2 separate regions of the Homo sapiens genome follow, and region 2 is linked to region 1. The links come from fine-mapping of genetic effects on gene expression. A gene starts in region 1. The other region holds a variant in brackets. All regions are shown on one strand. Distances are between the middles of the regions.

Region 1 (5,362 bases):
AAAAATTTATCTAAACAAAGTGCTGCCTGTCTTATTTATGTTAAAGTCTGTAAAGTCAGCAGTGAAAAAGGGAAAGTACTTTCCTGGAATGTATTTGTATCTGTCACAAGCTGAATCTTGAGGAAATTGGCAGGCATTTGAAGTGGAATAATTCCTTAGCGTTCTGTTTAGTTTGGATTTCTTCAATTCGGGGGTGGCTTAAAACCAGAATCACCAATATTTGCTTTTAACAAGCATCTAACGTTTTCTCTTGCTTTGTGTACACTAAGTGCTCAACAAATGTTGGTTGAATTGAATCATTTTGTTCATCCTTTCTGGGGACTGTCAGGGTTATTCAGTCTATTCTTAAATATGAAAGAATTCTAAAAGAAAAACATCTCCAAAATGACCTCTCCACCAACAGTTTATCTCATTTCCAACTCCTTGTACACAAACCTGCTAGATCTGGCTTTCTGAAATGCTTCTTGGATCCCTCTTCAGTTTGCAAAATTCTATAGAGTGAGCCAGGCTCCCCAGTCGATCTCCTCACCCACTCCTATTTTCCAGGAACCTTCTGTTCTAACCACACAGGTTTCAGAGCCTGCTGGACATATTCTGCGTCTGTGTTTCCTCCCAGGACTTCTCCCACGTGGAAGGCCTTCTTTCTCAATCTCTTCGCCTGTGGAAGTCCTATTACATCTGTCAGGGCATGGCCTTAGTCTCTCACCCTCTAGGAAGATCCTCCAGCTGTCTCAGTCCTCTGGAGTGCCGTGTGCCTGTCTGCAACGTATTTGCAAACAGAAAAAAGAGTGAGAGATCTTCATACACACTGTTAGTACCCTTTACCAATGTGTGAAAACATTCAGCTGCTGTAAAATCTTTTGAAGAAAATAAGATCCAATTAGCGTTGACTTTTATGTCGGGAAAGCTGAGGGTTTCAAAGGAATGCCTTTCAGTCATTCAACAGCTTTTTTTTTTTTTTTTTTTTTTTTTTTTTTTTTTTTTGAGTGCCTGCTCTGTGCCAGGAACTGGAGGAAAAAAAAACAACAAAAAGTCAAAAAGACCTGCCTTCAGGATGCTGAAGCTCTAGTCTGTGGTGTTTCCAAGGGGCCAGGGACCATGGCTCAGAGCTGAGCAGACAGACCTGGAGCCTGTGGACAGGGAAGGTGAAAGCCTGGCTTGTGGCTCCCGGGGCTACAAGTTAGGGAGCTAGGGGGCCAGCTGGGAGGTCAGTGGTGGAAAACCTCTCACACCACGCCAGGGAGTTGACAGTGCTTTTTTTTCTTTTTTTCTTTTCTTTTTTTTTTTTTTTTTTTTTCATTTTTAGGCTGGTTATGAAGAAGAAACTCAAAATAACAGGAGTGGCTTATGGAACTACATGGAGGTAACAGAGGAGGGTACCAACCAAAGGCCCTTGAGCAATCAGGATGTTGGGTAACAGATTTTTGCTTTTAAATGACTCCTGGGTGGAGCTTCCCCAATGCATCGTCATTCCCTGACCCTTGCATCTGACCCTGTGGGTGGGACCCTCCGCCTCCACCATCCACTCAAGGCTCACCCCTGGCTCCTCCACCACCCGGCTCCTGCCCCACACCCCCGATGGCCTTTCCTCCCCTGTAAGGCGACTGAGGTGACTCAGGTCACCCTGCTCCTTCCTCGTCTCATCTCGTCCCTCCTTTCCTGCTTAGACTGTGCCAGATGACCCTTCTTGCAAAGGGGTGGGCGGGAAGGCCCCCCATGCAGCCAGGCAGTGCCTGGATTTGTAACTGGCCATCCCAGCAGCAGTGCCCTGGATGGAAAGCCACGTCCCTGTCACCCTCTCACATCCAGGGCAGTGCCTGGCAGAGCGGGGTCTGATAAACGCCAGGGAACCTCCGATTAAGTGAGGAGGAAGTGACCGTCCACGCTGTACCCACCATGCCAGGCAGTGGGACAAAAGGACCTGACTCAGGTCCAAGAGTCACTGGGCCCCTCCGGCCTAACTGATGGGTGGCCAGGGTGCGGGGTCCCTGGGGATCAAAAGCAGCTGCTAAGGGACCTCGGGGGACCTGCTTGGGGCCAGCCTGAGGCCTGACCGGGCGGAACTGCGTCGGGTGGGCTTGGGCCTACGTCGGCCCAGGCCCCACTGGAGGCCAGGCCCGTCCGGGAGGCGCTGCCTGGCGGGCCACGTCGCCCCGCGTGTTGGGCAGGGCCGCTAGGCCCAGGGGCGGCGCCGCTGGAGGCCGGGCGCGCGGGCCCTACTCGGCAGGGCCTGCTCGGGGCCGGCTTCGGGCCTGCCCGGCCGGGCCTGCCCGCACCCTTCCGCCCGGCCTGGCCGGCGCCCCCTCGCGCCCCGGGCGGGCCCTGCACGTCTCGCGAGCAGCCCGGAGCGGCGGGGGAGGCGGGGCCCGCGGGCTGCCGGGCAGGGCCGGGGCGGTGCCGAGGCCGGGCCGGAGCGGGGCGAAGGGGGCCGAGCGGCGGGCCGGGCCGGGCCGGGCAGGGCCGGGGCGTGGGCCGGCAGGAAGATGGCGAACGTGGGGCTGCAGTTCCAGGCGAGCGCGGGGGACTCGGACCCACAGAGCCGGCCCCTGCTGCTGCTCGGGCAGCTGCACCACCTGCACCGCGTGCCCTGGAGCCACGTCCGCGGGAAGCTGCAGCCCCGGGTCACCGAGGAGGTGAGCGGGCCGCCGGCCGCCATGCGACCCGCGCCGCGGAAGCCCAGGCCCGGGCGGCCCGCGGAGGCCCCGCCTCGCCCGCCGCACCCCCGCCGCCGCCGGGCCGGGCCCAACGAGGCCGGGCCGCCTCCCTGAAGGGCTCAGCCGCCAGGCCAGTCCTCGCCCGCGGAGGCCCAGCCCCAGGCCCCGTCGCCGGTGCGGCGCGGTGGTCCTCCTGTCAGCCCAGCCCTGCGCCCCGCGAGGCCGCGACACCTGCGGACGGCGGGGGGGGAGACGTGGCCGCTCCCAGGGCCGCGCGTCGGCCCCGCCTGGCGACAGGCCCTGGCTTCCAGAAGTTCCCATGGCAGTGTCCCCAGCTGCCTTTCCTTGGGGACACCTGGCCCCTGCCCCCTCTCTGGTGGAAGCCGCCTAAGCCCTATCCGAGTGTTGGAAGCAAAGCAGCCCCCAGCCTGGCCCTTCCAGGCTTGGTGGCTTCATCCCACCAGGGGGATGCGAGCCAGCCTAGAGACAGTTAGCTCTGCAGAGAGGCGACACATCTCCCTAAGGATGGGAAAACGGTGGCCGGGAGCTGCGCAGTGCCCTTCCAGGACTGCAGGAGTGGTTGTGGCCGTGGCTGCAGGGCAGGGCCTCCTGGCACGTGGCCGCTGTTTGAAGCCTCTGTGTCTTGTCTCTCCCTTCTGATCTAGCTCTGGCAGGCTGCCCTGAGCACGCTCAACCCCAACCCCACGGACAGCTGTCCCCTCTACCTGAACTACGCCACCGTGGCTGCCCTGCCCTGCAGGGTGAGCCGGCACAACAGCCCCTCGGCCGCCCACTTCATCACGCGGCTGGTGCGGACCTGCCTGCCGCCCGGAGCGCATCGCTGCATTGTGGTGAGTGCTTCGAGAGGAGGCAGCCACGGTGCTCCTAGTCGGGCAGCGGTGAGCTCGGGCCTGGGGAGCTCACAGCCCTGCTCAGACTGCAGCGCACGCCCAGAGGGCTGTGGACGTTATCATCCCTGCTCTGTAGACAGGGAAACAGGTCCAGAGAGACGCGGGGATTTGCCCCAGATCAGTTTTGGTGGCAAATCAGAGACTCAAACCTAGATTTCCTGAGGCCCACTTTGTGTCTGTCCCTCTGTCCCTCATTTTCATGGCTGGTCAGGCTGTTGACATCTGGTGGCCAATGTGTTATTTCTCTTGGAGCATGACCAATGGTGGTCCCATGGTTCCGGGGATGACCTGAGGGATGGGGTGGCGGCTGCTGTGGGACATCTCTGTCTAGATGTCACCTGCCAGGGAGCTGATGTTCCGGAGGCGTTCAAAGAGCAGCTCCCTGCACTCCCTGGTGGCGGCCCTTGCACCCCTCACGCCGTCTCCCTATGTGCCACAGATGGTCTGCGAGCAGCCGGAGGTCTTTGCTTCCGCCTGTGCCCTGGCCCGGGCCTTCCCGCTGTTCACCCACCGCTCAGGTGCCTCTCGGCGCTTGGAGAAGAAGACGGTCACCGTGGAGTTTTTCCTGGTGGGACAAGACAACGGGCCGGTGGAGGTGTCCACATTGCAGGTGGGTGTCTGGAAGGGCAGACACTGCCCCTGGGCCCGGGCAAGATCGGGCAGGTGGGAGGGAGGTCGGGAGAGGGAAAAGCTTGTTGCGGGGGCAGGAGGGGGTTCCTGCCCTTCCCAGGAGCTTTGGTTCCTGGGAAGCGGCAGAGGCTTTTCCAAACCCAGGCCCCCTGCCTCTGCCTCAGCGTGGTCTGTGACTTCAGGATTCTGTTGTATACAGGCAGTGTTTGTTGAGCACGTAATCAGTGCCAGGAACGTCCATGCTGTTTTCCAAATAACCCTGCCCGTTTATGTGAGCTCCGTGTGCACGTGTGTGATGTATGCACGTGTGTGTGTATGTGCGTGCACATGTGTGTTGCTGTGCGTGTATGAGTGTATGTGCATGTGTTGTATGTGTGGGGGGTGTGTGTGTGCATGTGTGATGTGTGTGTGTGTGTGGTATGTGTTGCTGTGTATGTTTGCTGGTGTGTGCATGAGTGGTGTGTGTGGTGTACGTGTGGTATGTGTTGCTGTGTGTGTGTGTTTGCTGGTGTGTGCATGAGTGGTGTGTGTGTGTGGTGTGCATGTGTGGTGTGTGCATGTGTGGTGTGTGTTGTTGTGTGTGAGTACTGGTGTGTGCATGAGCAGCATGTGTTGCTGTGTGTATGAGTGCTGGTGTGTGCATGAGTGGTGTGTGTGTGTGTTGTGTGTGTTGCTGTGTGTGTATGAGTGCTAGTGTGTGCATGAGTGGTGTGTGTGTGGTGTGTGTGCATGTGTGTTGCTGCACCCTTTACAGGGAGCACTTCTACATGTGTTATTTCACTCAATGCTGAGAATGATCCTTTTGAGGCTGCAAGGCCGGAAGTGATTTCCCAGCTCCAGATCCTTGGATGGGCCTGACATCAGGCTCCTGTCCCCACGGCAGCGGTCCCAGCCTCTGCGCCTGCCACCTCCAGTCCCCGAGCCCACAGCGCCACCCAGGTTGTCTTTTCTCATGTGTCAGCGCTCATTCTTCACTTCTGGCTCTGGAAGGCTGTCGCCTTCACCCAGGCAAGCTCTCCCACATCAGCACTTGGGCCACACCTCATTTCTTTCACTGTGTGCTCTCTGAGGCCTGTAACCACTGCCCCTCAACCCAAATTCTTCCATCTTCACCAGCATGAGATAGCTCCCCTTTTTTCCCTTCGTCTCTGAGCTTTTAAAAAAGTC
Region 2 (5,362 bases), 880 kb after region 1:
CTTGTCATTATTTTATAAACAATACAGCATAATGACTATTTACATTGTATCAGGTATTATAAGTAATCCAGAGATGATTTAAAGCAAGCTTGTCCAAAGGGCAGCCCGTGGGCCACATGTGACCCAGGACAGCTTTGAATGCAGCCCAACACAAATTCATAAACTTCCCTAAAACATTATGAAAGGTTTTTTTTTTCAATTTCTTTTTAGCTCATCAGATATCGTTAGTGTATTTTGTGTATGGCCCAAGACCATTCTTCTTCCAATGCGGTCCAGGGAAGCCAAAAGATTGGATATCCCTGATTTAATGGATACAAGAGGATGTATGTAGCTTATAAGCAAGTAGTACACTATTTCATATAAAGAAATTGAGCATCTGTGGATTTTGGTATCCCTGGGTGTTCTGTAATCAACCCCCCATGGGTACTGAGGGACTAGGGTACTACCCCTGACTTTTTCATTAGCTGACAGATATTTGAGTTGCTTCCACTTTTTGACTATTATGGTGAATGCTGCTATGAACAGCCATGCACTTGCTTTTCTGGGGAAAAATATTTCCAGTTCTCTTGAGTACATACCTGGAAGTGGAATTGCTCGGTCATATGGCAACTTGATGTTTAGCTTTTCGAGGAATTGCTAGACTGTTTCCCAAGGCAGCTGCACCATTTTACATGCTGACGATTTGTTTTTAACAATTTATGGATAGTCCCACAATGTGTCAAAGACGGTTCAAAGCAGCTTAGACCCACACCTGAATTCAGCAGGTGACTGTCAGAGAAGTGAGAAGCATCGGGGCAAGGACGGGGAATTGGGACAGGACCAGGGAGTGGGGAGAGCAGAGTCCTGCCCGGCACAGGCCATAGCTCTTCACAGGAGGCTCTGGGCCATGCTGCAGGGTGGGTACCCTGGGGTGCTCGGAAGTGGCCCTTGAAGCCCCTGGGTACACACCGTGCATCTTCCAGAGCATTGATTTTTACTTAACTGTTTGGTGAGAAAGTGATGTGTATGAAAAGAATATAGACACATGTTGACTAGAATGAAAAACTGGATGAATTTTAGAAAGCTCAAAGGGATCCAGCACCTGCATGCCTCCGCTGCAGGCTCCTTTGACCACAGCCCCCACATCAGAGAACCCCTAGCAGGGGCACCTCCCACCCACCAGAATTGGGGAGAGTTGGGCAGGCTCGCCTGCACCCGTCCTAGTGGCCACTAGAGGGCGTCTGGATCCTCCCTGGGTTGCAGATTCCAGGAAATAAATACCCAAGGTTTCTGCCCGCTTCTCCCCAGTGCTGCCGGCAGAGCTGATCCAGAAACCCACCCCGGGCTTCCCAGGGGGAAGTGGACCGCTCAGACTCCTAACTTCAGTCAGCACGCTGACGAAGGAGAGAGCGGTTGAGAATCCTACAGCTGGAGGCAGAGCTCCGCCGAGGGTCTGGCCTTGCAAGGCGTCTCCCACAGCCCGGGGGACCTTGGACCTGTGTCCCCTCCTACAAGATGCTGAGAAGCCCAGGGTTAGGGGTCCCTGAGGCAGGGTGGAAACGCTGCCAGGACAAGCCCAGCCCACAGTCCACAGCGCCTGCCCCAGAAAAAACAGCCGTCGCTCCTGGATATCTGCCACGTGACTCAAAGAGGATTTAAGGCAGTTTAGAGCGATTCACAAAATTCAGCAGCAGCTGCGACCTCGGGGACCCAGAGAGACGGGGATGACGCAAGGAGAAAGGAACAAGAGCAGGGATGCGGGATGGAGCCTGGGATGAGGGGATGCAGGCCGCTCACGGAGAATTCTTCTGGGGTCAGGCCCAGGTCTGGGTGTCTTGCGTCCTGGGGCCCCCGGGGTGCAGCCCAGGGGCTGCTTAGAGGGGCTGAGTGTCTTCTCCTCTAGGGTCAGTGCCCCTGGAAGATTTGGAGGGAAAATTTGTGTGTGTGGAGAGAAGGCAAACGTGTCATTGATTTTTATTATAAAAGAAAAGACTGTACTGCACTGTACTGGAATGATAATGATGAAGAAGATGGGATCATTCCAGTCACTCTGAGTAACTTACAGTGGCTTTTTTTAAAAGGAGGATTTCTTTCCTTTATTTTAGTTTATTTTTTAATTATGTGTTTATGATTTTTAGTGATGGGGTTTTGCTCTGCTGCCCAGGCTGAAGTGCAGTGGCATGTCATGGCTCACTGCAGCCTCAAACTCCTGGGCTCGAGCAATCCTCCTGAGTAGCTGGGACCACAGCCTTGCGCCACCAAACCCAACTACTTTTTAAATTTTTTGTAGAGATGAGGTCTCGCTATGTTGCCCAGACTGGTCTTGAACTCCTGGCTTCAAGCGAGTTGAAGCTTGAAGCCTCCTGAGCAGCTGGGGTTATAGGCATAAGCCACCCTTTCCTTTTTT[T/TA]TAAAAAAAAATAATTATTTGAGGTGATATTTGTGTAATACCAAATTAGCCCTTTTAAAGTGAACAATTCAGTGGCATTTAGGACATTCACAATGCTGTGCGCCCACTACTTCTACCTGTTCCAAACCATTTTCATCATTTTATGGTAAAACCTCATCTTTGTGGTGCCTTTTAGATCTTTCTTTATTAATTATTTATTGAGCATCTACCATGAACCGAAGTCTGTGTGGTACTGGGGATTTTGAATGGTGATTACACACAGTCTCTGCCCTCAGTGATAGCCAGCCTTTACCCCAACATGTTCTTTAAGTGTTCTAGCTCTTAGAAGCAGAGTCCTCATTTCCTCCCAGACAGCAGAAAGATTGGTAACTATGTAGCACCCATGCCCCACTCTGCTGGCCCTTGCCCTTATCAGACATTGCCAATCAATTGCAGCACTCTTACTGATCCTTGAGGCAGCCTAGTGACCCTGTGGAGCTCAGGTACATTGCCAACCAACACTGAGAAAGCTTTGGGTCATTCCGAGCTGTGATGTTGTACACACAGAGGTCTGTATCATATATACATACACTGGGTTCCATGAACTCAAGTCTCACTTGTCCACAAGTTGCAGGGCAACCGGGTTTTATAGGCTTACAGGAAATCACCCCTAGTCCTCACTCCATGCCTGCAGGGAAAACGTTGTGAAGGTATCCTAGCTGGTTCCTGCGGGTCATAAGGATGCTGAAGAAACTCCCAGCATAGACAGATACAGTGAACCTGGCAAGTCACTGCTGTTGGGTTGGTGTGTGTCCAGGGAGGTCACTCACAGCCATGACCTGCTACGGAATTTGCCAGGGGTCTAATGCAAATGAAAGTACAGTTCCCTTATTCAAAAATTATGAAGAGCTGCAAGGTGGTGGTGGTAGGGCGGGAAGCCAAGTCTGGGCCCTTTTGAGCCTGGGGCCCTGTGCCTGTCCAGGCAGCTCTCATCGCAGTCATTCTGGCCATTTACCCCCACTCGGGCTCTGCATGAGGAGCTGGCCTGGCCTGGAAGCGCAGTGTCGTGGAGAGCCTGGTGTCTGCTCTGCCCCAAGCTCTCCCCCTTTCTAGGCAGCTGCACCAAAGCAGCTTTTGGAGAACCTCCTCTCCCCAGGCCTCAGCAGAGGAGGTTCAGGTGAGCTGATCCTACCCCACTTCCATCCTCCTCCGTGCCACCAGCCTGGCTAACCCGTAGTTCCCATCCCTTAGTGACGAGGACCAGTTCAGAGTTGGGGAGAGGTGCTGTGAGGAGGTCCAAGCAAACTCGGCTTGGTGCTTTCTCTGGAGCTCCAAGGAAGGAGGTGGCCCCTTGAAGCTTTGGTAGTGGAACTCTCGGATTCAGCCATGTCTGTCACCACCCCTCCTCCTGGTCTCTCCAGTGGCCAAGGGGTACCTTTTCTGCTCCAGCCAGAAGGACTTGGATTTCAGCCCATTGGAACTGAAAGAGTCCCTGGAGTGAGTGGGGCTCAAACGTGGGGCTAGGTGGCTTAGCCAAGTGGATGCCCCACTGCACGTGGCTGCAGGAAAGACCAATACCCCTTGTCCCTCATGGCCCTTGCTGTGTCCTAGACTTCAGCCCTACAGCCGAGGGGGATCCTCTCAGCAGGACTCCTGCTGGTCTGTGTTCCCATGGCCCAGACCAACCCATGGACATTCAGGACACCCTGGAGGGTCCTCACAAAGAAGGGATGTTACCCACAGGGCTGGCCCTGAGGGTCCTGCTGGGCCCAAGGGAGCAGCTGATGGGGTGGCCTTCAGCCCTTCTGGATTCCTTGCAGGGGCTGGGCCTGGCCAGCCTGTCCTCTGCCCTAGAAGCACCCAGGGGTGATGTGGCTCTGGTGAAGCGCACAGGTCCTGGAGTCCAGTTACGAGGCCTGGAGCTTGGCTTGTCCTAATATTAGCAGCAGGGCCTCGGGGAGCCTCTGAGAGCTTCAGTTTTCTTAGGGATAATGAATAATGCTGTCTTTAGATTTTTGTGAAGATGAACTGGGATAAAGCAGATGGAGTGTTTAGCACAGGTCCTGGCGCATCGGAAGTGTTTAGTGAGGATGAATGATTAGGCTTCATCTTCCCCTCTGCATCCTCTTCTGAAGAAACCTGCTCAGAGTTCAAAAGGCCCAACCCAGGCCACACCTAAGGAGGCCAACAGTGTCTGCTGGCCTCAGACGGGGTTAGTCAGCGTCCTTGGTAGTGTGTACTTGAGAGGGCTGCCATGTGAAGCCCCATTCTGTAGGTCACCAATAGATCCATGTGCAAACAGATCAGGGGCCACGAAGGCTCTGGCCCGTGGACAGGCGGCAGGGCCGGCAGAAAGAGAGACCTTTCCTAGCACACCTCGAATTTGTCTTCATGCTAACATTTCTGTCTCCTAACTCTTTCCTCCAGTGACCTCTTCCCCACCAAGGCTAGGGAGAAAAGGAAATGGCAAGGAGGGTGGGACTGAAAATTCCAGTCCTCCATAGGGCTGCCTTCGGGCACAGCTGGAACCAGCTGCTCACACGGACAATGCCAGCAGCCCCTGATACCTCCCTGTCCAGGCTCCTCCCTCTTCTGTGTTCTTTTGATTCTGAGCCATGTAATGGCCCTGGACGTTCAGACCATCCTTCTCAGGACTAGTGGATAACATGGGCTTCTCTCTCCCAGTCCAGCAAAGTCCCAAATGTGTGCCTCTGTGAACCAACTTTTCTGGCCCAGCCCCTGAGGTCAGGTGGATGATCTATGCTGGTTGGTTGGACTAGGTCATGAGCCCTCCCCTGGAATTAGGGAGGGGCCCTGGGTCCACAGAGTGGGGAAGGAGGCTTCCAGCAGGAAATGGAAATGCTATTCCCAGCAGAGTGGGACAAAGCCTGCAAAACACATGGTCCCTGAGTGACCAGGACCAATGCCTGTCCTCTCAAATTCCAGCCCAGTGTGGGGCAGGGCAGATGGGTGGACAAATCATCTCAATGGGATGCA

Evidence for each region.
Region 2: its variant is fine-mapped to the expression of NPEPL1 in testis (GTEx, PIP 0.95).

What each region holds. Positions count from the first base shown.
Region 1 is chr20:58,690,418-58,695,779 of GRCh38, forward strand. NPEPL1 (aminopeptidase like 1) reads left to right here and starts at 2,383. Exons shown (of 12, transcript NM_024663.4): 1 at 2,383-2,633; 2 at 3,320-3,505; 3 at 4,005-4,175. The coding sequence starts at 2,484. STX16-NPEPL1 (STX16-NPEPL1 readthrough (NMD candidate)) reads left to right here. Exons shown (of 23, transcript NR_037945.1): 9 at 617-810; 10 at 988-1,145; 11 at 1,307-1,363; 12 at 3,320-3,505; 13 at 4,005-4,175. RefSeq lists enhancers at 1,816-2,521, 3,962-4,569 and silencers at 2,019-2,508, 2,519-2,678, 2,709-2,788, 2,809-2,898.
Region 2 is chr20:59,570,509-59,575,870 of GRCh38, forward strand. No RefSeq gene overlaps it. Among named protein-coding and RNA genes, the nearest start is that of PHACTR3, 31 kb to the right of the region's middle. RefSeq lists an enhancer at 1,582-2,123. The variant T/TA (reference allele first, on the strand shown) is at 2,387.